Linked DNA regions of Homo sapiens. The protein of the gene in region 1 purifies or fractionates together with the protein of each later gene. This does not show direct contact. Each region holds a gene or a part of one and is shown in the gene's direction. Other genes may lie near its edges.

Region 1 (3,500 bases):
CATGTGCTAGGAACAACAAAGAGCCAATGTAGCTGGAGCCATACAAGAGCTAGAGTAGTTGGAGATGAGATCAGAAAGTTAACAGAGGCTGATCAATGCCTCATTGATTATTTTCAGGACTTTGGCATTTACTCAGATTGAGAATGAAGCCATTGCAGGATTTTAAATAGAGGAGTGACATGATCTAGCTTACTCTTTAAAAGGCTTCCTATGGTTCCTGTGTTGAGAATGAACTGTTGAGGGTTAGAGTAGAAAGAGGTGAGGGTAAAAGCAAAGAGATCTGTTAGGAAGCTATTTGAGTGATGCTGGTAAGAGATGATAGTGATAGCTTACACCAAACTCATGAGATCAGATTCTGGATGTTTTATAGCTTCAGTGGGATTTGCTGTTATTAGGTGGAAAAGAAAATGACTTCAAGGATTTGGGCCTGAGCAAATGGAAGACTGGAGTTGCCATCTAACAAAATGGGCAAGACTGCTGAAATTTTGGTGAGGATATCAGGAGCTTAGTTGGGAGATTCCTCTTAAGCCTTCCAGAGATGTTAGGTGGGCAGGAAGGGTTCAAGAGAGGTATGCTGACTAAAGATAGAAATTTGGAAATTTGCAGTATATAAATGGAATTTAAACCTGTGAGACCAGAATAGAACAACTTGGGGAATGAGTATATGTGGAAAAAAATGACCAAGTCTTAGAGCACTCTGCATTTAGAAGCCTGGGAGATGAAGATGAGTGACCAGGAAAACAGTAGAAAAACCAGATTAGTGTTGTATCCTAAAACCAAGTTAAGAAAGGGTTTTTATCTAGTAGGAAAAGTGTTTATTTGTGTCAGATGCAATTGATTGGTCAGGTGAATTAAGGTCTGATAACCATTTGTTTTAGCCATGTGAAGAACAATGATGGCTCGAAAAGTTTTGATTAAATGATGGGCTCTAGAGCCTAGAATGGATTCCAGAGAGCATGTAGCAAGAAATTTGAGACATTGAGTATAAGCAACTCTTTGAAGTAGTCTTGAAGAAGGAAAAATAAAACAATGGGAGACGATGGGGTCAGATAATAGAATGCCTGAATGCTGATAAGAATGAGCCAGTGGAGAGAATAATTGATGAAGTTAAAGACAGAAGGGAGAATTGTTGGGACATTCTTATGGAATGTCTTCTAGTGTACAAATGGTCTTAGCCAGGGAAATACATACAGTGTCATTGCTGGTTGGCATAAGGGTCCATTTGAGATGATGAATTTAAAGGGAGACTAGTCAGCAGGTTTTGTGTTTTTTTTTCACCTACCATTTTCAGCTCTATGTGTGCAGGTGAAGAGTCGAATTTAACCAAGATTGTGATTTAGGGTATTTTAGCTGGGTGAGAAGGAAAATAAAAACACCAAGAGCTGAGGGACAGTGGAAATATGATAGAATCAAGAGATAATGAAAGGTTTGAAGAATGGAGGAATCAGAGTTGTTGGATTGTTGTGTAGTAGGGGGTGAACTAAAAAGATAAGAATGGTGGTTGGAGAATGGAGTATTTGAAGTTGAGGTTATAGAAGGATTGCAATTACTGGTAATGATAAGGTCTAGGATGTAACCAGAAAAAATGAATGGCTGTGGTAAGGTAGAAGACAAGCTGTTTGAGGAGAGGGGTTAAATGAGAGGACAGGAGGGTCATCTGTGAGCATATTGAAATCGAGAACTATGTCAGGAGTTGTAAAAGAGTGTGTGAAAGTTAACAGGGGCTGAAATCTTCAAAGAATGAAAGGGAGTGATCTGGTGGTCACTACTAACTAAAGCAGTTAGATAGTTGAGATGCAAAACTTTTTAGGGAGGAGGGAGAGATAATAGTCTAGGACAGCGTCGAGGAGCAAGATCTCTTATCCCCATCCAAGCCTAATGATATTGATGGGTGTGAAAAAGACTTGAGATGTCTACAAAGGGAAGCAGTCTATTAAAAAAAATAAAATAAAATCAAGATTGATTATCACAGTAAGAAAAAGACAACATGATCTCTTTCTAAATGGATAATCTTGGTTTCAGATTCATTCATTACATATTGGAATAAACTTGAGTATTAAGGCACCTTTTGGAATTTTTTACTTTAATCACCATTCTAAGGAAATTAATTTCTGAACCACTAAGCCCAATATTGTGAAAGATTTTTAAGTTAACTTTGATCTTAATGCTGTGTAGTTGATTAAATTGGAATATCAAGACTTATAAAAGCTTTAAAAGTGAGCATAGTATATACATATAGTTATTTGGTCTCCTTTTAATTTCATTGCTATTATGATTATTTGCCATTTCTGTCAGTGTCATTATAGTCAGATGTACACGACGTGAAGTAATGCTTAGTTTGGGGGAAGAGCTTGTGGGATTTCCCCCATCCTGCTTCCCCTTTTTCAGTTTTCCTGGCTATTAATAATTCTTTTTCCATTAGAGCTTTAGATTTGCTTTGTCTGGGTTGGTTGGGGTTTTTTTTTTTTTTTGAGACTGGGTCTGACTCTCATCCAGGCTGGAGTGCAGTAGTGTGATCTCAGCTCACTGTAACCTCCACCTCCTAGGCTCAGGTAATCCTCCCACCTCAGCCTCCGGAATAGCTGGGACCGCAGGCGCACACCACCACATGTCTGGGGTTCTTTTGTTTGTTTTTTCTCATGAGATTGAATTAAATATATAAATTCAGGAAGGGTTTAAATCTGTGATATTAACTATTCTTTATTATAAAAACTGAGATAGCATGTCATTTGTTCAGGTCATTTATATCATTTGGTGTTGTTTTAAAGTTTTCTTGTGTATATATCTTGTTGAGTATATTCCTAGATATTTTCTTTTTGTCGCTATTGTAAATGACATTTTTTTCTTTCCTTATATAAATCTTCTGATTAAAGTATATATGTAAAATTTGATTTTCCCAACCTTACTAGATTATAGATTATTTTACAATTTTTACATTTGTCAAAATTTATATTTTTTTTTTGCAGATAATCATTTCATCTCCATATAATGATCATTTATGTTTTCCTGTCTTTCATGTATGCAAATTAGTTCCCTTAACTAATGGCATTAAATTTGTTGATTTTTCTTTCATAGAAGAGCTGGATATTCTTTCGCCCAGTTATGGCAGACAAGTTAACGAGAATTGCTATTGTCAACCATGACAAATGTAAACCTAAGAAATGTCGACAGGAATGCAAAAAGAGTTGTCCTGTAGTTCGAATGGGTAAGCTGTTCTGTGGATCATTTAAGTATAAAAGAAAACCATGAAAGAAATCAACTGGTTTGATAATTCTTTACGGACATTAACATAAACTTTGTGTTCACCATTAGTTTCATAAAACTGTGAAGACAAGAAAAGTAGTTTGTTCTAAATTTCTTTTATTGCTTTGTGACTGAAGGATCATATTTTTTAAAGAAAGACCAAATTTTAGAATAATACATCAATATTTAAAAGTGTATTGGATGTGAACTCAAAGCAGAGTTCAGCTTACTGATCTTGAAATCTACAAAATCTTATA
Region 2 (4,232 bases), on another chromosome or scaffold:
TCTTCTCTGGAGAAGGATCAGATGAACTTACGCAGGGTTACATATATTTTCACAAGGTAACCACTCTGAAGTGGAGGGATATTCATGCTATATTAAGAAAAGTATGAATTGTTTGACTATTTTCTATCATCTTTCAGTATGACAGTGATATTTTTGAGTATCTTGTGAGGTTACAAAAGGGAATCTGATAGTGTTTGCTTTCTATCTCTTGGGGAAGAAAGAAATTTTAATGTGTCAGATAATTTTTATTCTTTAAAACTAGTTACAGCTGGGTATGAGGGCTCATGCTCATACCCCCAGCTGCTGAGGAGGCTGAGGTGGGAGGATCACCTGAACCCAGGAGATTGAGGCTGCAGTGAGCTGTGATTGCACCACTGCACTCCTGCCTGGTTGACAGAGTAAGACCCCGTCTCTTAAAAAAAAAAAAAAAAAAGTTAAAAATAAATAAATAAAACTACTTAAGCTTGAGAATCCCCTTTCTGCCATTTCTTAGCATCCTGTGGAATTATGACTGTTGCCCATTGTGTTCATTTTATTCTAATATTAGCAGTTTGGTAGGAAGGAAGGCATGTTTTGTGAAGCATTGCTTACCTCTGTTCAGTTATTTACTCCCTTCCCTAAATTTGTTTAACTTTTTGTCTTATCCACCTTTAGGATTGGAGAGGGAGAAAGAAAAACTGCTTTGTGTGCCAAAAGCAAAACTCTTGGTGTTTTTGTTTGTGAAATAGGCTCCTTCTCCTGAAAAAGCCGAGGAGGAGAGTGAGAGGCTTCTGAGGGAACTCTATTTGTTTGATGTTCTCCGCGCAGATCGAACTACTGCTGCCCATGGGTAATATTTTTAGAGGCTATTGTAAAACAAAAACAAAAAAACACCAAAAACAAAACAAAACAAAAAGCTCAATACCCTGAGAAAATAAAAATCAATAGCTGATTGGCTATATGTTACATATAGTTGGCTATATGTTACAAAGTGTGACTTTTATAGAGAAAATGAAGCTGTTTCTTAACTTTGTCCCAAAAGGATTAGGCCACATTTCAAAGTGGTGTTGTGGTATATGGAGAGAAGTCTTCTTCCATAGGTTGTTTGAGGTGGAGTTTTCACCTTTAAAGGGTAACAACATTCTGCTCACATCTGAACAACCAAGATGGAAGAGGCAAGGCTGCTACAGCAGCTACCGTTAAGTGTTTTAAAGAGAAGTAAAGATCGTAAACATCATGTGACAAGTAGTGAGTGCCCACCATGCCCATGTGGTGCTGTAGTGACCCTGAGGGAATAGAGTAGTGAAGATACAAGGGGTTTGATTACATTATAAAGAACCAGGTTTCTTTGGTTATCATTTCTAGTTGTCTAAAGTTATGTTGAAGAACTGAAGACTTTTACTGTACAGGATAAACAACTGACATTAAATGTCTTAGTTGCCTCTGCTGAATCACACCTAGATAAGGATATAATTAAATATGGGTTTGAGGAATGAACTGAATCTGGTCATTATCCTCTCTGCTTGTCCTAACTAGAGTCACTAGGCTTCAGGAAACCGGTGATTTGGAATTTGATGAAATATAGTGGGACACTGGTTTATATCGCATATTGTATGTGAATTTTTAATCAGTGGCAAAAAAATACTGTATCGTCATCACAATTGTTAGAAGAGATGGTCTCACCTAGTAAACACTGAGTTAGGTCTAGGCAAGGTATTTTCTTAATGATTGGGTCACTCATGTTTTGTAACTTTTTCTGCTTTTTGAAATATGCATTTAACTATTCCTAGAAGGGAAAGTAAAAGTAATAGTCTCAGTTAGTTTTACTCCCTAGATGACATGATATATGTATTATTTTAAATGAAGATTTATTTTTTGTATCTATTCATTAGTGTAGGGCAGTCATTAGGAGGCTTGTATGTGACTGTATGACCTTAACATTTCTTAAGATCTGGTTGAATTGATGGGAAACTGAATCAGAACCTAACCTGGCAGGCACTAAATACCCATTTTAATTTAGATTTTCTTCTTTTCTCCTTTAAGTCTTGAACTGAGAGTCCCATTTCTAGATCATCGATTTTCTTCCTATTACTTGTCTCTGCCACCAGAAATGAGAATTCCAAAGGTAGGTAAATCAACTCAAGGTAAAACTGTCCATTGCCATCAGATTATATTTGTAATTTTTACCTGATGCTCCTTTTTTTGTCACGTCAGAATGGGATAGAAAAACATCTCCTGAGAGAGACGTTTGAGGATTCCAATCTGATACCCAAAGAGATTCTCTGGCGACCAAAAGAAGCCTTCAGTGATGGAATAACTTCAGTTAAGAATTCCTGGTTTAAGATTTTACAGGAATACGTTGAACATCAGGTATAATGTCTTTAAAAACATTTTCAGGAATAAGACAGTTTGGATGCAGAGCTGTCATTGCTGTTCATTTTGTATTTAGTTTGAATGATACATGTATTTAGTTTGAATGATACATGTATTTAGTTTGAATGATACATACATCAGATATCTCTCTGATAGGATGTCCCTATCAGAGAGATTCAGAGTCTCTGTAAACAATTATCTCTTTTGTAAGAATTACGTAAGAATTAAGTAGCATGAAGGATTATAAAGTAGCATCTAGAATCGAGAGAGAGAGGAGACTTACTACTAATCATCACTGATTTTCATTTATCAGATTTTTGGGCACCTGCTGGGTGCCAGATCTTGTTAGGCACAAATGACTAAAACAGAGCCACCAAGTATTAAAAATATGCATATGAGTGTTCTTTAAAAGGCACTGCAGCTATCCATATTATGAATACTTTAGCATTTTCTAAGTGATGGGTGATTCAAAGGGTCTCATACAAGTTACAGTCACGTCTTAACATTTTCTGTTTCGTGAAATGAGACTAAACACAAGTATTTCCTGCCATTTTAAGCCATTTTGCTCTTATATGCTTATTCTTACAGGTTGATGATGCAATGATGGCAAATGCAGCCCAGAAATTTCCCTTCAATACTCCTAAAACCAAAGAAGGATATTACTACCGTCAAGTCTTTGAACGCCATTACCCAGGCCGGGCTGACTGGCTGAGCCATTACTGGATGCCCAAGTGGATCAATGCCACTGACCCTTCTGCCCGCACGCTGACCCACTACAAGTCAGCTGTCAAAGCTTAGGTGGTCTTTATGCTGTAATGTGAAAGCAAATATTTCTTCGTGTTGGATGGGGACTGTGGGTAGATAGGGGAACAATGAGAGTCAACTCAGGCTAACTTGGGTGTGAAAAAAATAAAAGTCCTAAATCTAAACCATTGCTGTAGTCATTTATGTTCATGCAGTCTCTTCATAAGAGGTAACTAGAACTGTTTTGCTGTATCACAGTAAAGTGGAGGGTAAGCTAGGAAAAGGGAAAATGATCAGATGTCTGCAAGAACTCACAGCCCTCTCCTGGCAGAGCTGCTTTAGATGACATTTGCATCTTGTGCCCGTGTGGCTTCCTTCCAGTCCTTGCCTCATCTTAGGGACGTCATCAAAGGACTACACTATTTTTGTTCTGCCTACATTCCTAACAGCTGCCTAGGCAGACTCAGACTTGAATCTTCTATAGGAGTTCATCACAGCTCTATTTTGCAAGATAGTAGTTCATTTTTTTCTCTTTTATGTTGAGCCAAAGCCACTTCTGGAGACTTGTCCTAGAGCAGGGGTCAGGCTTTTTTTGAATTTTTAATTTGTTTTTAATAAAGAGCCAGATAGTAAATATTTTAGGCTTTGTGGACCTCTTTTGGAACTGTTCAGCTCTGCCATTATAGTGCAAAAGCAGTTACATAGGCAATATGTAAACAAACGAGCGTGGCCATGTTCTATTAAAAGTTACTTATGAAAGCAGATGGTGGGCCAGATACGGCCTGTGGGCCATAGTTAGTTGATTGCTGTTCTAGAGGAACAACTAAGCTAACTAAGCATTTCTGATGAAAGTCTAAACCTTTGTCAGATGAGTAGATTGCAAAAATTCTCTCCCATTCTGTAGGTTGCCTGTTCACTCTGATGGTAGTTTCTTTTGCTGTGCAGAAGCTCTTGAGTTTAATTAGATCCCATTTGTCAATTTTGGCTTTTGTTGCCATTGCTTTTGGTGTTTTAGACATGAAGTCCTTGCCCATGCCTATGTCCTGAATGGTAATGCCTAGGTTTTCTTCTAGGGTTTTTATGGTTTTAGGTCTAACATTTAAGTCTTTAATCCATCTTGAATTAATTTTTGTATA
Region 3 (3,500 bases), on another chromosome or scaffold:
TGAAGATGGCATTACCACTGGATTATGTAATAACCTCTTTGTTGGTCTGTCAGCCTTTTTAGTTCCTTAACACTCTTGCCACAACTGTCTAAAAAACAAAAGTTGAATTCTTCATCTCCTGCTTAAAAACTGGCTCTTTGATAACTGGATATAGTCCCAACTCCCAGTCACAGTCTGACCCATCTCCAGTCTTTCTGGCTTTGTCTCACCATTTTCATGATCTTCAGCTCTAGTCTCATGAAGCTACCGGATTGTATCCTTGTTCAGAATGATTTTTAGCCTTTCTTCTGCCTTCTTCTATAAGGTTAAAACAAAAAAAGCATTTCAAAGCCACCTCCTTTTTTAGACTTTCCTTTTTCCCAGTCTAAGTTACTTGTTTTCTCTCTTTAGCATTTTATCTGTATATCCCTTTATAGGACTTAATTCATTCTGTCCTTGTGTTTTGGTTATTTTTGGTAAAGAACCTTGATTTTTCTTTCTTTATGGCATCTGACATGGTGACTTGGCACCCTCTAAATTACCAAATGGACCCTTTTATAAACACGATTGGCCTTTTTTCTTTTCTTTTTCTTTTTTTTTTTTTTTTTTTTTGAGACAGAGTTTTGCTTTTGTTGTCCAGGCTGGAGTGCAGTGGTGCAATCTCAGCTCACTGCAACCTCCGCCTCCCGAGTTCAAGCGATTCTCCTGCCTCAGCCTCCCGAGTAGCTGGGATTACAGACACCCACCACCATGCCCAGCTAATTTTTGTATTTTTAGTAGAGACGGGGTTTCACCATGTTGGCCAGACTGGTCTCGAACTCCTGACCTCGTGAGTGAACTCCTGCCCTCCCAAAGTGCTGGGATTATAGGCATGAGCCACTGCACCCAGCCATGATTGGCCTTTTAACTCTCATTTCTCCTAAATGAAACCAGTGAGTGTTCCTTTAACTGAGAGTTAAAACTTCACATAGTTGTCATGCTTAGTATATTTTTAAGTGTTTCGTTTCTAGAGAACTGAATTTTTAAAATGTGTAAAACTGAATTTACTAGATAAATAAATAGAATCAGGTATTCTAAAGATAATTAACCTAGTTACTACTATTTATACCTGCTTAAATGCTTGATGAGTTCCCTTTCCTCCTTCACTCAGACAAATCGCATATAGTGATGTAACTTTTTTTTTTCAGTCTCAGGAATGCAAAGACCGTAATGGGGAAAGCTGTAGGTTGCAGTTCCATTAGCCCTTTTTATTTAGTTTCCAGAATTGTCTTGAGGCCTCTGGTGCTAGATTGTAACCATTTTAAAATTATGTTTCTGTTCTGGCTTGTAGATAAGTAGCAGTTTTTATTTTATTTTATTTTATTTATTTATTTTTTTTGAAATGGAGTCTCGCTCTGTCCCCAGGCTGGAGTGCAATGGTGCGATCTCGGCTCACTGCAAGCTCCACCTCCCTGGTTCACACCATTCTCTTGCCTCAGCCTCCCGATTAGCTGGGACTGCAGGCACTCATCACCACGCCCGGCTAATTTTTTGTATTTTTTAGTAGAGACGGGGTTTCACCGTGTTAGCCAGGATGGTCTCAATCTCCTGACTTTATGATCCACCCGCCTTGGCCTCCCAAAGTGCTGAGATTACAGGCGTGAGCCACCGCGCCTGGCCGATACTTAGCAGTTTTTAAAACAGCTAGCTAAACAAGAGTTACTGATACTGGTTAGGGAAAAACTGCGATACACTGTGCTTGAATCCATCACTGAAAAAAAATAATGTTCGTGGAAGTGTTCTTGGGAGATGTCTTATAGGAATATGCTAATATCTAAATGCCTTGGCAATCTGTAGAATATTGAACATAAAGTATTGTGTAACATGGAACTTCAGTATAGGAGTTATTCTGGTTTTTGGAAAAGTTGTTGGTGGAGACTTCAAGGCAGAATTCTGCTTTTATGTAATAATGCGTTATGTTCTACCTTCGTGATAAAGACCTGATTTTGCTGAATATTTTAGTCTGAATCTGCTTGCTAAGATTTGTGGAAAAATGGAAAGTGTGAGTTGCACTGACCTGCAGCACTGTTTGCTAATGAATGGATTTGGACTTTTTAACTAGCCATTTCTGCTAAATGTTTTCCTCCCTTTCCTGTCATTCCTCTGTGGCTAGGTGTGTTGGTGTATATTCTTATTGGCAAGAAATGCCACCTTATAAGTCTCACAGACATTCCCTGAATGTGGATGTGTTTTGAGAATGTTCAGTACATCTCTTCAAACTGGCTGCAAATAAAATATCCAACTTTTTAAGTCTTAAATAAATGGTAGCAAAGGAATGAACTAAAATAGCTGATTTTTTTTTTAACTTCATTTCGGTTTAGTTTATAGTAAAAATGCCTTTAGATGTTTGGGGGTATTTATTCTAAAAGGATCCTTTTCAGCCTACCTGAAGACTAAATTATTTATAAGAAATGTCATTTGTCTTCACTGTTTCTAAATATGTATTTTTGTTTCAGGCACGTGTGGTTCTCAAATATAGGCATTCTGATGGGAACTTGTGTGTTAAAGTAACAGATGATTTAGTTGTAAGTATACATTTTTATTTGTTACATACTTTCAGATTTGTTTGAGTTAATTATTTGTTTGAAATTATTTACTTAGAGTTTATGGAGATTACCCATTAGGATGCTTATTTTGCATTTCATTTAAAGATGAAGAACCTCATTCTAGCAGCTACTTTTATAGACCCTCAGGAAATTATTTAACCTGCTTTCTTAATGCATTATGTCAAGTGTCTTTAATAAGTGCTGTCTTCAGACCTTAAGCAACAGAAATGTAGAGACCAAATTGGATGTAAGGGAGTAAAAGTTTCCTTTAAATGACAGTGTTTGAACACAACTTACAGGCTTTATTGTATTTCCTGTCTTTGATATGCTCATTCTTGTTACTTCCTCATATCCCATTCATTCCTTAACCCTCTGCCATTTGTTTTCTGCATATGGTACTCCAGCGAAACTGCTCTTTGTGAGAGCACATCAGCAGCTCCTTTCTTTTCAAACCCAGTGGTCTTATTATTCATATGTTATTTGACCTCCTTGCTGCTTTTGATACAGAAGCCCACTCTTTCATAGAAATAATTATTTTGGCACTTGTGGTTCTGTTTTATCTTGGCCTTACTATTCTGTGTTTCTGTTGTTTCATTCTTCTTTGCTGATTGTTTTTTTTTTGATGTGCCCCATATATATGTGCTTCTCTAGGATTCTGTCCTTGATTGTCTTTTCATAACAGCTTCTGGAGCAGTTCATTTAACTGAGTCTAATACTGCATCTGTCTATGTCTACTTGCAAATGTGTGTTTAGTTCATATTCTTCTGACTTTCTGACTAGCATCTGTATCTCACATACCCTCAAAATTCACTTATCTACAGTGGAGTTTATCACCTGTTCTTTTTTTTTTTTTTTTTTTTTTTTTTTTTTTTTTTGAGACGGAGTCTTGCTCTGTCGCCCAGGCTGGAGTGCAGTGGTGTGATCTCGGCTCACTGC
Region 4 (3,500 bases), on another chromosome or scaffold:
GTGGTGCATTTTAAATGAAACAAGTTCCATTAAGTGCTTATTGCTGAAGGTATAATTCAGTGAATGTTCTTTCCTTTTCTTAGAGCAGAGTTTGGTATTTTATTTTCACCTAAGCCATTTTGGTTCAGTTCTTAAGGCTTTGATTATTTTTTTAAGTTGAATGGTGTTTAGTGTGCCCATGTTCATAACAGCATATTATTCACAACAGCCATACAGGCTGGGTGTGGTAGCTCATGTCTATAATCCCAGCACTTTGGGAAGCCAATGTGGGCAGATTGAGTCCAGGAGTGTAAGGGCAATATGGTGAAACCCTGTCTATACAAAAAATTAGCCGGGCTTGGTGGTGGGCACCTGTAGTCCCAATTACTGGGAAGGCTGAGATGGGAGAATCACCTGAGCCCAGGAGGTCAAAGCTGCAGTGTGCCTTCATTGTGCCACTGCACTTTAGCCTGGACGACAGAGTGAGACCCTGTGTCAAACAAAAAAAAAAAAAAAAAGATAGATTCTAAGAGGCCAAGGCAGGCAAATGGGCAGATTGCTTGAGCCCAGGAATTGGAGACTAGCCTGGACAACATAGCTACTAAAAATACAAAAAATGAGCTAAGCATGGTGGTACATGCTACTCCCGAGGCTGAGGTGGGAAGATCACTTGAGCTTGGGGAGGTCAAGGCTGCAGTGAGCCGTGATCATGCCACTGCACTCCAGCCTAGGTGACCCTGTCTCCAAAAAAGAAAAATGTGGTATATACATAGAATAGAATATTATTCTGCCTTTAAAAAGGAAATTCTGACAGATGGTAAGACATGGATGAACTCTGAGTACATTATGCTAAATAGGCCATCTATAAAAAAAAATGGTGTGATTCTACTAATGTGAGGTACTTAGAATAGTCAGATTCATGTGAGGTACTTAGAATAGTCAGATTCATACAGAAAAAAAGTAGAATGGAAGACGGCTGGGATGGGGTGTAGTTATTGCTAAATGGGCAGAGAGTTTCAGTTTTGCAAGATGAAAAGAGTCCTCTGAAGATAGATGTTGGTACACAGAGCACCGTGGCTCACGCCTGTAGTCTCAACACTTTGGGAGGCTGAGGCAGGAGGATTGTTTGAGCCCAGGAGTTCAAGACCACTCTAGGTAATATAGGGAGACCTCATCTCTACAAAAAATTTAGCCCGGTATGGTGGTGCATGATTGTAGTCCTACCTACTTAGGAGGTTGTTGTGGGAGGATCACTTGAGCTCAGAAGGTCGAGGCTGCAGTGAGCCTTTACCAAACCACTGCACTCCAGCCTGGGCGACAGAGCAAGACCCTGTCTCAGAAGAAAAAATAAAGGAAAAGTAGATGTTGGTAATAGCACAGCCGTGTGAATGTACTTAATGCCTCTGAAATGTACACTTAAAAATGGTTAAGGTGGTAAAATTTATGTTACATGTATTGTACCATAATTCTTAAAAGAATAAAGTTTTTTTAAAATTTTAAGACAGCTGCTGACAGTCCTCAACAATGGCATTTAGTAGTCATGTTAGTATGTAGGTAAGGCTGTTCCTATAGAACAGGAGCCACCAACTCCTGCTGGCCAGCTGCCTGTTTATTTGCTGTGAGAAGGCTAAGAATGTGTTTTACGTTTTTTAGTTACGTTTTAAATGGTTATATAAGTACCTACATAACAATAGCCTTTGACCCTCAAAGCCCAAAATGTTTACTATCTGGCCCTTTTAAAAAAGATACATGTTAATCTGTGCTTTAAAGTCATTGTCATTTGAATGCATTAGTTCTGCCACTAATCAACCCTATATCCCACAAACAAGGCACTTAAATATTCTGGGCCTCATTTTCTCATGTATAGAAGAGGTGGTGCTTGCCTATCGCTTTGGAAGAACTACATAAGGATCCCAAAATACAGGAGGTAAAACTGAAACACAAGTCATATTTGCTTTGCTTTATAGAGATTGACCATTGGCCTTATTTGGTTACTCTGTTCAAAGCAAGTACCTTTGCTTATCAACTTCCTGTGCTTAGTTGTGTAGAGTTGTTTGAGTAAAGAAACCCTAGAGACCCTTAAACTTGCAAACACATCAACCAATTGGGAAACCCTGGAATTAACGGAAACAGTTACAATTAGAACATGGCTGGTATGTGGTAAAAGGCCACCCTTGAGTAAAGATGCTATGTGATAAGTACAAACACCAATGTTTAGTGTCTTGTTGGAGTTGATTTTTTTTCTCTCTGGCTTTTAAGAAGTAACTTCATCGATTTGAACTAAGTTTTTGATTCATTTGGCAAGAAAATAGAAAGCTTTTGGGGGAGTAAATTATTTAATATGTTACTGGTGTCCCAAATATCTTTTTTTTTTTTTTTTTTTGAGACAGAGTCTTGCTGTATCGCCGAGGCTAGAGTGCAGTGATGCAATCTTTGCTCACTGCAACCTCCACCCACCAGGTTCAAGCAATTCTTTTGCTTCAGCCTCCCACATAGCTGGGATTACAGGTGCCTGCCACCACACCTGGCTAATTTGTGTATATTTAATAGAGATGGGGTTTCACCATGTTGGCCAGGCTGGTCTTGAACTCCTGACCTCAAGTGATTTGCCCACCTTGGCCTTCCAAAGTGCTGGGATTACAGGCCGTGAGCCACCATGCCAGGCCTTTTTAAAATTTTTTTTTATTTTTTGAGACCAGGTCTGGCTTTGTTGCCCAGGCTGAAGTACAGTGGCACGATCTTGGCTCACTGCAACCTCCACCTCCTAGGCTCAAGCAATCCTCTCACCTCATCCTCCCAAATATCTGGGACTACAGATGCATGCCACCATGCCTAGCTAATTCTTTACATTTTTTTGTACAGATGGGTATCGGGGAACCTGCCCCGATAGTCGCGTACATTCTTTTCTATTTTCCTTAAGCGTCAGCCAGCTTGAGAAATAAAGGGACAGGGTACAAAAGAGAGAAATTTTAAAGCTGGGCATCCGGGGGAGACATCACATGTCGGTAGGTTCCATGATGCCCCACAAGCCGCAAAAACCAGCAAGTTTTTATTAGGGATTTTCAAAAGAGGAGGGAGTGTGCGAATAGGTGTGGGTCAGAGACATCAAGTACTTCACAAGGTAATAGAATATCACAAGGCAAATGGAGGCAGGGCGAGATCATAGGACTACAGGACCAGGGCGAAATTAAAATTGCTAATGAAGTTTCGGGCACCATTGTCATTGATAACATCTTATCAGGAGACAAGGTTTTGAGAGCAACCGGTCTGACCAAAATTTATTAGGCAGGAATTTCCTCTTCCTAATAAGCCTGGGAGCGCTATGGGAGACTGGGGTGTATTTCACCCCTACAGTCTACAGACCATAAAAGATGGCCACACCCAGGGGGGCCATCTATAGACCTATACCCCCAGGCGCGTATTCTCTTTCCCAGGGATGTTCCTTGCTGAGAAAAAGAATTCAGCGATATTTCTCCCATTTGCTTTTGAAGGAAGAACAGTATGGCTCTGTTCCACCTGGC
Region 5 (3,500 bases), on another chromosome or scaffold:
ATGGGCTGGAAAGGAATGAGCGAGAGGGTGGCAGGGGTTGAGGGTAGAGAAGGGAGCAGATCATGTCAGCCCTTATGCCTTTGCTTTTGGGAAGATGGGAAGTCATTAAAGGATAAGGGCAAAAGAAGGAGGCCAATGAGGAGTCTACTGCAGTCATCCAGGCCAGAGATGATGTGATGGAGAAGGGGTTGTGAGAAGACATTGGACTCTGGACAGATTTTGTTAGAATAGGTAGAGCTGACAAGCTTGGCTGATTGACTTCTGTGGAATACGAGACAAAGAGAGATATAACGAATGGCACCAAGATTGTTGGCCTGAGCAGGGGAGAAACAGAATTAACATGAGATGAAAGGGAGGCTGCCTCAGGGTTGGGGATTGGGAGCTTTATTTTGAACATGTGCAGTTTAATATTAGACATACAAGTGGAGATATCAAGAAGGCAACTTTTGATGGAAAGAATGCAAAATGCAAAATTATTTGAAAAATACTGCTGAGTCAATAGTAGCTCTTCCAGCACAGTCTTAAAGTAGAACCGTTACCATGTTTGTTAGGGGAAATATATCTACAAAATATTCTGACCTTGAAAAAGGACCTTGTGCTGGAAAAGTTTGGAAATAGAGATGAGTTCAAGTGAAAATTTTAGTGGCCAATAAATATTATTTTCCTTTTCTGCTTCTCCTATTCCTTTAGTACATGTTGATTTCAAAATTTGCAGCATTATCAGATTTTGAAATCTTAATTTTAAACTTGAGATTTTTTTCCCTCTAATCTTTGAATAGAGCTTTCTGGTAAGAGATGCCTAACACATGGCAGAATTGTGTTCTCCCAAGTTATTTTATTTTGGAAGGAAATTAGAATGTTCACTTATTACATGTTCACTTGTGATTTTTTGTGCATCGAACCTGTTCATGTCATGTGGTGCTATTTGAGACGACAAAAGAATTGGAAGACAGAGGTTTTTGCTATTATGGAATCTATAATGTGGGGTTAAGAAACAGATGGTATACCTCATGTGGAAAGATTGCTCCTTCATTGTTATTTTAATTAGCTTAAGTACATTTAATTTTACTAGCATCCATTTGTGATTGGCCATTTCAACATCTGTCCTTCTCAGTCTTATGCAGGGAAATATGTGCCAGCCATTGCACACCTCATCCATTCCCTCAACCCTGTGAGAGAGGTGAAGATCAACCTGAACGGAATTGCTATTGGAGATGGATATTCTGATCCCGAATCAGTAGGTTTCTCCTTCTGACTTTCTATTTTGTCTCTTAGGGGGATTAAATGCCTTTTTATCAGATGGAAGGCTCCTCTTAGAGGTCTAACTTTTGATAAGGGAAACACCAGTTGACTTTATGACTTAAATCTCCTAATTTTTACCAAATGTTTCAACGTATCAATTTACTGTGTCAGCTTACATTGGCTGTCAGTGCAAATGTGTGTGTGTTTGTATTGTGTTGTGTTCTGTTGTGTGTGTTGTGGGGTGTATATGTGTGTGTGCATGTAATTATCCTACTTGGCTAACCAGCACAATATTAACAATTACAAAGGATTATTTCACCAAGCAAATGGGCTTCCTTAAGGTCTCTTTCTCTCCCTTTGTCACATTGATGTGTGTCTTTTTTGTCCTCAGATTATAGGGGGCTATGCAGAATTCCTGTACCAAATTGGCTTGTTGGATGAGAAGCAAAAAAAGTACTTCCAGAAGCAGTGCCATGAATGCATAGAACACATCAGGAAGCAGAACTGGTTTGAGGCCTTTGAAGTGAGTTCTGGGGGCCCTGTGCTGCCCTTGAGCAATTAAAACCATCTGGGGAGGGAGGGCGGGTGAGCAGGAACACCTTGGTGCTCAGGCATTTTTTTGTTAAGAAGGTATATCTGTTATTCCATTGGAGATCGGGAGGCGAGTTGAGTGGCCTCATAATGAAGAAAAGGACTGTCTGTGTTCCTTTGAATTTACTTTGGCTATATTTTAAGCCTGAGATCATCTTGGAGTGTTTATCTAACTGTGTCTTTCATTAACCGTTTTGATTTCTTTAAATGCTGTGGAGGCCCTCAAGGCAGACTCTATCATATGGAAATCAGAAGAAAGGCAACCCAGGAAGTAGAGGCATATGCTTCACCATCTGCTCTAAACCATGTAGAAGAGTTTTATATCCACAAACAGGGTTTCAGCTGGGAGAAATGACCACAGTGTGTAACAGATGACATGTGACACACGTGTCAGGAACAAAGATTATAAAGTGTAGTAATTTGAAACTCTTACAAAGGGCCATTGGTATTTGTGCATATCCTTTCATTGCTCCCCTAAAATTAAACTTGAGAATCAATAATTACGTTCTTCACTCTTTTCTTTCTCAGTTATTTAAAATGTAAGAATATACTAAATATTAGGATACAGGAAGTTGGGTTTTTTTTGTTTTTTTTTGCTTTTTTTGCCAATGCAGACAGAGCCATGTGTAAACAATCTCCCTGAGGGGCTTTTTGCCGTATTTACTATACAGCCATCATGTTTGACATGGTAGTAAATGAGGCAAGGTCTGAATTTCGAGGGCTTTAATTTGTTTGTTATTAGACACATATTCTGTAACAGTATATCTAATGTCGTTATTGTTATTAAAGCAGAAATCTGATATTAAGTCTTAAGGGCATTGCAGATCAGCCAGTTCAGATCAAAATAGGAGACATGCAACCTTGGAGAAAAGGGTAGAGGATAATACAAAGTTATTTTTCATTTTACAAGTAGGGTGTTGGGACACTATCAGAAATCCCCCAAGGCAGTGACCGCCCTTGCCGTGAATTCTGATAGCAGCTAGCTGTGCAAATGGATGGAGCAAAGGGAGTCCTGAGCCATCCTACAGAGCTCCACCAGGCTCTCCTTTCTCTGTGTCAGGACACTAAATGTGGCTGCAAAGTGTGGATTCAGAATTTCTTATGCAATTGTAAACACAAAGGAAGAGGGGTCTCCTGGGGCACATGTAGGATCATGCTTCCACTTGCAATGACAGTATTTTCAAGGCTTTCTGCTGTGGTAGTCACAGAGGGGACGAAGGAGTGAAACTTCAGTATTTAGAATTAATACCAAATTTTATGTGGCATGAGACCAATTTGCAATTGAAACATTTGATATGTTTTTAAAGAAGCACACAGGATAAAGCAATTGTCAAGAGCAAGAGCATTTGAGAGGCCCATATTTAGAAAAAAAGCAGAAAGATGACTGGTACATAATGCAGCAGGCTAAACACCTACAGGATTAGTGAAGCTGTAGAAAAGTTCAGGTGTGTTGTGTATTCAGAGATAATGAGAACATGACCCACGAGGTGAGAATCTCTCCCAAACCGGATACGTCAGAAACCGGAACCCCAAGCAGGTAAAACGTTTGAAGGCTTGGAATGTCTTTTTGACCATTGGTCCCGTATCTTGAGTGATGAATTAAAACAAGACCTTTGCTTTTTCAAGGAAAATAGATAAAATGATACTTAGGACAGTAAACAACTTGT
Region 6 (3,500 bases), on another chromosome or scaffold:
CATTCTGATAGCATGTGTAACACCAAACTACTTTCAGTTTTCCTCCTACTCCCTGAAGAATTTTACTTTGTTCCGTCTGTTACTTTTGCCTGGCATGGGAAGGGAGGGTCCTTTATTCCTACCCCTTTTACCTAATGAGCTCTAGCTTATCCATTCTCATGTTTTGCAGAACTTCCGCCCCACTTCTCTTCCCCGCCCCAGATGTCCCTTCTCTGTCCCCTCCAAAATATTCTCAGCATCTCTCATTACATGGTCAAGTTGTTTTTAGTTTAGATGAATGTTTACTTTTATGGAAAGAGCTGGTCCTATTCATTTTAGTGCCTAAAACAATGTCTGGCTCATACTGGGTATTCAAATATTGGTAGAGTGACTGAACATCCAGAAAGTTAAGGGGATTTTTTCAAGATCCGGTTGCTTATAGGGGACAAAATTGGGACTGGAAAATGAGTACTTCTTTTATTGCCTCATACTGCAGACCAGTGTTCCTCCTAGTACAGCATGTAAAACTGGCTAAGTACAATATCTATTGTGCAATTACTAAGTCAATTTAAGCTCATTTGCTAATCATTAAGATGATTAAATTTTGCTTTGTAAATCAAATTTTTACATATTGTATATATGGGAGCCTATGGTGCATGAATGGTTTTGCATGAAGTTTATATAGTCACAAACAGTTAAAACAGTTGAAGTAGATAAGAAAGTCACATGGAAGAAACAAAAATAGGCTTTTAGTGACCATATTTTGATAGGTCAGGTAAAATAAAAAAAATTAATGTGACATTTTCCAGGCATACTGTTTAAAAGATTATGTGGGCCGGGCTCGGTGGCTCACACCTGTAATCCCAGCACTTTGGGAGGCCAAGGCAGGCAGATCATCCAAGGTCAGGAGTTTAAGACCAGCCCGGCTAACATGGTGAAACCCCATCTCTACTAAAAATACAACATTAGCTGGGCATGGTTGCACACGCCTGTAATCCCAGCTACTCAGGAGGCTGAGGCAGGAGAATCACTTGAACCCGGGAGGTGGAGGTTGCAGTGAGCCAAGATTGCGCCATTGCACTCCAGCCTGGGTGACAAGAGTGAAACTCCATCTCAAAAAAAGAAAAAGGCCGGGCACGGTGGCTCACGCCTGTAATCCCAGCACTTTGGGAGGCCGAGGCAGGTGGATCACAAAGCCAGGAGATCGAGACCATCCTGGCTAACATGGTGAAACCCCATCTGTACTAAAAATACAAAAACAGGGGCCAGGCGTGGTGGCTCACGCCTGTAATCCCAGCATTTTGGGAGGCTGAGGCGGGCAGATCACGAGGTCAGGAGATCAAGACCATCCTGGGTAACACAGTGAAACCCCATCTCTACTAAAAAATACAAAAAATTAGCCAGGCATGGTGGCGGGTGCCTGTAGTCCCAGCAACTCGGGAGGCTGAGACAGGAGAGAGCCGAGTTCATGCCACTGCACTCCAGCCTGGGCAACAGGGCGAGACTCCATCTCAGAAAAAAAAATACAAAAACAAAATTAGCCGGGTGTGGTGGCAGGCACCTGTGGTCCCAGCTACTTGGGAGGCTGAGGCGGAGAATGGCCTGAACCCAGGAGGTGGAGCTTGCAGTGAGCTGAGATTGCGCCATTGCATTCCAGCCTGGGCGACAGAGCGAGACTCCGTCTCGAAAGAGAGAGAGAGAAAGGAGGGAGGGAAGGAAGGGAAGGAAGAGAGGAAGGGAGGGAGGGAGGAAGGAAGGAAGGAAGTAGCGAAGGAAGAAAGGAGCGAAAGAAGGAGTGAAGGAAGGAGCGAGCTATAGTTTGGAAGATCTAAGAATAGAAATGGCCAAATTTGAAAAATTGCGTTGTAGCTTAATAAATGCTTGAATCAAATTTGCTTGCATTTACATATTGTGATTCTTGTGCCTTCAGGTTCTTCTGTTTTCTGTAGCATATTGCAGAAATCAGTTGGGGTTTAGAAACTGAGACCATACATTGATTTGAAAAAGGATAGAGAAATATATTTCAGTCTGGGTACATTCCCAATTTCAGAATTTTATTTTATTATTATTATTATTTTTGGGACAGAGTCTCACTGTGTCCCCCAGGCTGGAGTGCAGTGGTGCGATCTCGGCTCACTGCAACCTCCACCTCCGAGGCTCAAGCTATTCTTGTGCCTCAGCCTCCCGAGTAGCTGGGATTACAGACATGCGCCACCACGCCTGGGTAATTTTTGTATTTTTAATAGAGACGGGGTTTCGCCATGTTGGCCAGGCTGGTCTCGAACTCCTGGTCTCATCTGATCCTCCCACCTCGGCCTCCCAAAGTGCTGGGATTAAAAGCAAGAGCCACTGCACCCAGCCTCAGATTTTTTTAGAAATTAGAAGTTTTAAAAATGAAGCATCAAAAAAGAAAAAGTATCAGAAAGCTGAAATAGCAAGGTCATGGTTAAGATCATTAGATACATAGGATATGAGTTGAATTTTTCATAGCGCTTTTATTAAAACAATCATTTAAAAATATATTTTTGACCCTGGTACTCTACAAAGCTTAGTACATTTTTTACTTTTATAAATTCCAAATAGGCTAAAAGCCTACTGACAATATTGACAGTAGCAATGATGATGTAGGTGTCACTTGGGTTAAGTCATGGGAAAACTCAAACCATAGTGTCACAGAGGCTACCCTTTAGCTTTGCATGCCCAGAACACAATTTAATAGCAAAGAGAGGGGATCTGTCTTCTGGGAGGTGTGTATGTTGACTAAGATCATAGGTTTTATATTATTATTGAGAGAAACAATTTGTCCTGTTCATTTTGTTACTGTGTTTCAAAGTCATTGAGATTAAGAATTTATATTTCAGCACTAAGAACTGTGCCTGGCAGCCAATAGTCCTTTAGTTGATACTTGTTGAATAATGTTAATAATACTCAAGGTCTGTGTTTTGTTCCTGCAGGTTGATCCAAAAGACTACATGTTCAGTGGACTGAAGGATGAAACAGTAGGTCGCTTACCTGGGACGGTAGCAGGACAACAGTTTCTCATTCAAGACTGTGAGAACTGTAACATCTATATTTTTGATCACTCTGCTACAGTTACCATTGATGACTGTACTAACTGCATAATTTTTCTGGGACCCGTGAAAGGCAGCGTGTTTTTCCGGAATTGCAGAGATTGCAAGTGCACATTAGCCTGCCAACAATTTCGTGTGCGAGATTGTAGAAAGCTGGAAGTCTTTTTGTGTTGTGCCACTCAACCCATCATTGAGTCTTCCTCAAATATCAAATTTGGATGTTTTCAATGGTACTATCCTGAATTAGCTTTCCAGTTCAAAGATGCAGGGCTAAGTATCTTCAACAATACATGGAGTAACATTCATGACTTTACACCTGTGTCAGGAGAACTCAACTGGAGCCTTCTTCCAGAAGATGCTGTGGTTCAGGACTATGTTCCTATACCTACTACCGAAGAGCTCAAAGCTGTTCGTGTTTCCACAGAAGCCAATAGAAGCATTGTTCCAATA
Region 7 (3,500 bases), on another chromosome or scaffold:
GTCCTTGGCCAGCGAGAGGACACTGCGGGTGAGCTGCCAAGGACACGCAGGCCTCTGTAGCTCCTCTGTTTGAGGTTAGGATTTCTCCGGAAGGCGTGGTATCACTGAGCTTCAGGGAAGTGTTAATGAATTTGGGCCCTTGCGGTTTGTAGGCACTTATTCCTCATAAATGTCAGAGGACAGTCATATAAATGAACATATTTAATGACTGATTCCGTAAATATGGTAATGAATAACACTACCAATTTAGGAAGGAAATCTTTTTTTTTGAGAGATGGGGTCTTGCTCTGTCACTCAGGCTAGAGTGCAGTGATGCAGTCAGCTCACTGCAGCCTCGAACTCTTGGTCTCAAATGATTCTCCCTCCTGCCTCATCCTCTCAGACTACAGGCATGTGCCACCATCCTGTCTAATTTTTAATTTTTTATGTTGCCCAGGCTAGTCTCCAACTCTTGGTCTCAAGCTATTCTTTTGCCTCGGCCTCCCAAAGTGCTGGGATTACGGGTGTGAGCCATCGCTCTTGGCCATGGGTAGCTTTCTTGGGGTGACTACGGTCTTACTAAATTGTGTCACTGTAATGTCACAGAATTCTCTTTGATCAGTGGGTCGCGTAGCTGGTGATTTTTGATGAAAGGGTAGAAAGGCAATTTTGCTGCTCTCTGTATTTTTAAATGTTATAATTCAGCATCTCTTTATTTGATAGGTTCGAGGCTATAAAACATTTCTTCGTTTATTTCCTCATGAAGTTGCCGATGTAGAGCCTGTTTTAGATTTGGTCACAATTCAGAATCCCAAGGACCATGAAGTGAGTGTCTCTGCCTCCCCCCTCGTCTCCAGCCCTCCGTGCCTGTCCTTCCTCCCTGCTTGCCCCACCCTGCTGCACCTTCCCCTTCCTGTTTCTTTCATTTTATCTCCCTTTGTTTTGTGTCACTCCTCTTTTCTTTCTTTTCTTTTCACTTTTCCTTTACTTCTTGTACAAGTTGCTTTAAATTATTTTCGTTTAAAATAGCCCCTTTATAAAAAAAATTATGCCTAGGTGTAGTTTAACAATAAATCCGTCATTGTTTCTATGTTTTTTTAACTGTGTAAGTATAACTGTGTTGGGTTCCCAAGACCACCCCCAGGTTTGATACTTCCTGAGCGGGACTCACAGCACTCAGCATAGAGTCCTCCTTTTGGCTGTCACTTGTTATGGCAAAATAATACACAGCAAAATCAGCAAAGGGAAAAGGCACATGGGTGGGGTCTGGGGAGAACCAGGCGGGAGCTCCCGGGGTCCTCCAGTTGGGTCCCACAGGGCCTGTGTCATTCCCCCAGCAGTGAGATGTGACCACACCTGTGAGGTGTCTATCAGAGAAGCACGTTTGAGACTTGGTGCCCAGAGCTTTCACTGGGGTCTGGCCACATGGACACCTCTGCCTGGCACGAAACGAAATTCCAGACCCCCAGCAGGAAAGCAGGTGCCAGCGTAAAGCACACGGTTTGTGCAGATTGAGCCAGCGAGGGACCTCATCAGGCAGGGCTTGGTGGGAACCCTGCTGGTGTCCAGGTCCCTGGATACCAGCCCAGGGCCGGCCTCGTCAGGGGCCTTGCCTCAGACGGCAGCGGGGCCTGCTATGCTCGCTGTCTTCTGCGTGGTATGTATTTGGAGGAGCACACGGTTTATAACCGTGCAGTGCGGTGGCTTGTCTCGGCGTGGATGTGACTGATGAGCGCTGTGGGGCATTTCCCTGCTGCCCTGCACTCCGTGCCCTTCTTTCCCTAGTACTTCTAGCGCCCCCCAGTGGAATGATTGCAGGGACAAATTGGGATGTTTTTTACTAATTACTGAAAATAAGGGTACTCCTTTTTTATTAGAAGTTGATAATTGTTTTCTTTATTCTTTTTTTTTTAAAAAGACAGAGTTTCACTCTTCTTGCCCAGGTTGGAGAGCAATGGCACAATCTTGGCTCACTGCAACCTCTGTCTCCCAGGTTCAAGCGATTCTCCTGTGTCAGCCTCCTGAGTAGCTGGGATTACAGGCATGTGTCATCACGCCAGGGTAATTTTGTATTTTTAGTAGAAACAGGGTTTCTCCATGTTGGTCAGGCTGGTTTAGGACTCTTGACCTCGGCCAGGCACGGTGGCTCGTGCCTGTAATCCCAGCAGTTTGGGAGGCCAAGGTGGGCGGATCACGAGGTCAGGAGATCGAGACCATCCTGGCTAACACGGTGCAACCCTGTGTCTACAAAAAATACAAAAATTAGCCTAGCATGGTGGCAAACGCCTGTAGTCCCAGCTACTCAGAAGGCTGAGGCAGGAGAATGGCGTGAACCCGGAAGGTGGAGCTTGCAGTGAGCGAGGTTGCGCCACTGCACTCCAGCCTGGGCAACAGAGCGAGACTCCATCTCAAAAAAAAAAAAAGGAACTCCTGACCTCAGGTGATCCGCTCGTCTCGGCCTCCCAAAGTGTTGGGATTACAGGTGTGAACCACCACACCTGGCCTTTTTTCTTTATTCTTAGGTGTTTTTACTTTTTATCTGTTTTTCACTTTTTCAAAAGGCCAGTTTGTATGTGGAGAGGTGCCAGCGAAGAGAAGCTGCTATACTGATGTATTATGATTTTTCTTTGTTCATTTTGATGTCTCTCTTGTCTGCTGAGCTAAGTTACGGCGGTAGGTGTGTGTGGTGGGGATTCCGGGGGGGATGTGGCGAGGAGTTGGTGAACGGCTTGCATTTCTGGCCCTGAGGGTGATGGCATTTGAATGGCTTTCATAGGCATTGGGTGGGCATGGAGGGCAGTGACTTTGAGTAGATTGTGGCCAGTGGCCTGTGATTTTCAAGCAAGACTCATTCTTCCCGTGGTTTAATTTTTTAGGCTTGGGAAACCCGCTACATGCTTTTGCTCTGGCTCTCCGTGACCTGCCTGATCCCTTTTGATTTTTCTCGCCTTGACGGGAACCTCCTCACCCAGCCTGGGCAAGCACGAATGTCCATAATGGACCGTATTCTCCAAATAGCAGAGGTAAATATCATGCAGATAATTAGCTGCTAATTAGTACTCACTTTCATGTTCATGCTGTCTTGATGTTAGTGGTTTACTCGGTAAGCTTCTGATATGTATTCAACTGCTGTTTTTTTCAGTGGGGTAAAATCCCATAGGATAACTTATTTTGAAATTGTGATAATTCATGTAGGGGTCAGGTTGAGTTAGCAAATCTCATTTCTTTGTAGATGATGCAAATACTCTGTTGAGGGTAATCATGGCAGATAAGGAAGGGTTTAGTGGCATGGTGAGAGAGAATAAGGACCCATTTTACATTTAGTTCTTAACGTTATATAAATAATAGATGCTCATTTGTAGGAGAACTAGAAAATAAAGATAAGCAAGAAAAATACTAAATTTAAATTTATGAAATTCTAGTGCCAAGAGATAAGTTGTTTATTTTCTCCGAACTTTTCCTGATGTAAATATTATGCATATAAACACAGCTTATTGTATTAGTTATCTATTGGATCATAA

What was found.
Region 2: the proteins of ABCE1 (region 1) and ASNS purify together in Homo sapiens (affinity purification with mass spectrometry, with the first as the bait; one study listed by BioGRID). This does not show direct contact.
Region 3: the proteins of ABCE1 (region 1) and SRP9 purify together in Homo sapiens (affinity purification with mass spectrometry; 2 studies listed by BioGRID and IntAct, with this or other methods). This does not show direct contact.
Region 4: the proteins of ABCE1 (region 1) and TIMM23 purify together in Homo sapiens (affinity purification with mass spectrometry, with the first as the bait; one study listed by BioGRID). This does not show direct contact.
Region 5: the proteins of ABCE1 (region 1) and CPVL purify together in Homo sapiens (affinity purification with mass spectrometry, with the first as the bait; one study listed by BioGRID). This does not show direct contact.
Region 6: the proteins of ABCE1 (region 1) and RP2 purify together in Homo sapiens (affinity purification with mass spectrometry, with the first as the bait; one study listed by BioGRID). This does not show direct contact.
Region 7: the proteins of ABCE1 (region 1) and TBCD purify together in Homo sapiens (affinity purification with mass spectrometry, with the first as the bait; one study listed by BioGRID). This does not show direct contact.

The regions. Positions count from the first base shown.
Region 1 is NC_000004.12:145,101,311-145,104,810, forward strand, and holds part of ABCE1 (ATP-binding cassette sub-family E member 1), read left to right. Parts: intron 1-3,075; 5' UTR 3,076-3,102; coding exon 3,103-3,205; intron 3,206-3,500. UniProt on the Homo sapiens protein: Nucleoside-triphosphatase (NTPase) involved in ribosome recycling by mediating ribosome disassembly. Able to hydrolyze ATP, GTP, UTP and CTP. Splits ribosomes into free 60S subunits and tRNA- and mRNA-bound 40S subunits.
Region 2 is NC_000007.14:97,851,177-97,855,408, reverse strand, and holds the end of ASNS (asparagine synthetase [glutamine-hydrolyzing]), read left to right. Parts: coding exon 1-56; intron 57-654; exon of another isoform or gene 655-728; coding exon 729-829; intron 830-2,022; coding exon 2,023-2,104; intron 2,105-2,193; coding exon 2,194-2,349; intron 2,350-2,940; coding exon 2,941-3,150; 3' UTR 3,151-3,732; downstream 3,733-4,232.
Region 3 is NC_000001.11:225,780,826-225,784,325, forward strand, and holds part of SRP9 (signal recognition particle 9 kDa protein), read left to right. Parts: intron 1-2,474; coding exon 2,475-2,543; intron 2,544-3,500. UniProt on the Homo sapiens protein: Component of the signal recognition particle (SRP) complex, a ribonucleoprotein complex that mediates the cotranslational targeting of secretory and membrane proteins to the endoplasmic reticulum (ER).
Region 4 is NC_000010.11:45,996,489-45,999,988, forward strand, and holds part of TIMM23 (mitochondrial import inner membrane translocase subunit Tim23), read left to right. Parts: intron 1-3,500. UniProt on the Homo sapiens protein: Essential component of the TIM23 complex, a complex that mediates the translocation of transit peptide-containing proteins across the mitochondrial inner membrane.
Region 5 is NC_000007.14:29,070,038-29,073,537, reverse strand, and holds part of CPVL (probable serine carboxypeptidase CPVL isoform b precursor), read left to right. Parts: intron 1-1,072; coding exon of another isoform or gene 1,073-1,114; coding exon 1,115-1,237; intron 1,238-1,633; coding exon 1,634-1,765; intron 1,766-3,500. UniProt on the Homo sapiens protein: May be involved in the digestion of phagocytosed particles in the lysosome, participation in an inflammatory protease cascade, and trimming of peptides for antigen presentation.
Region 6 is NC_000023.11:46,850,543-46,854,042, forward strand, and holds part of RP2 (protein XRP2), read left to right. Parts: intron 1-2,933; coding exon 2,934-3,500. UniProt on the Homo sapiens protein: Acts as a GTPase-activating protein (GAP) involved in trafficking between the Golgi and the ciliary membrane.
Region 7 is NC_000017.11:82,765,565-82,769,064, forward strand, and holds part of TBCD (tubulin-specific chaperone D), read left to right. Parts: intron 1-702; coding exon 703-804; intron 805-2,855; coding exon 2,856-3,002; intron 3,003-3,500.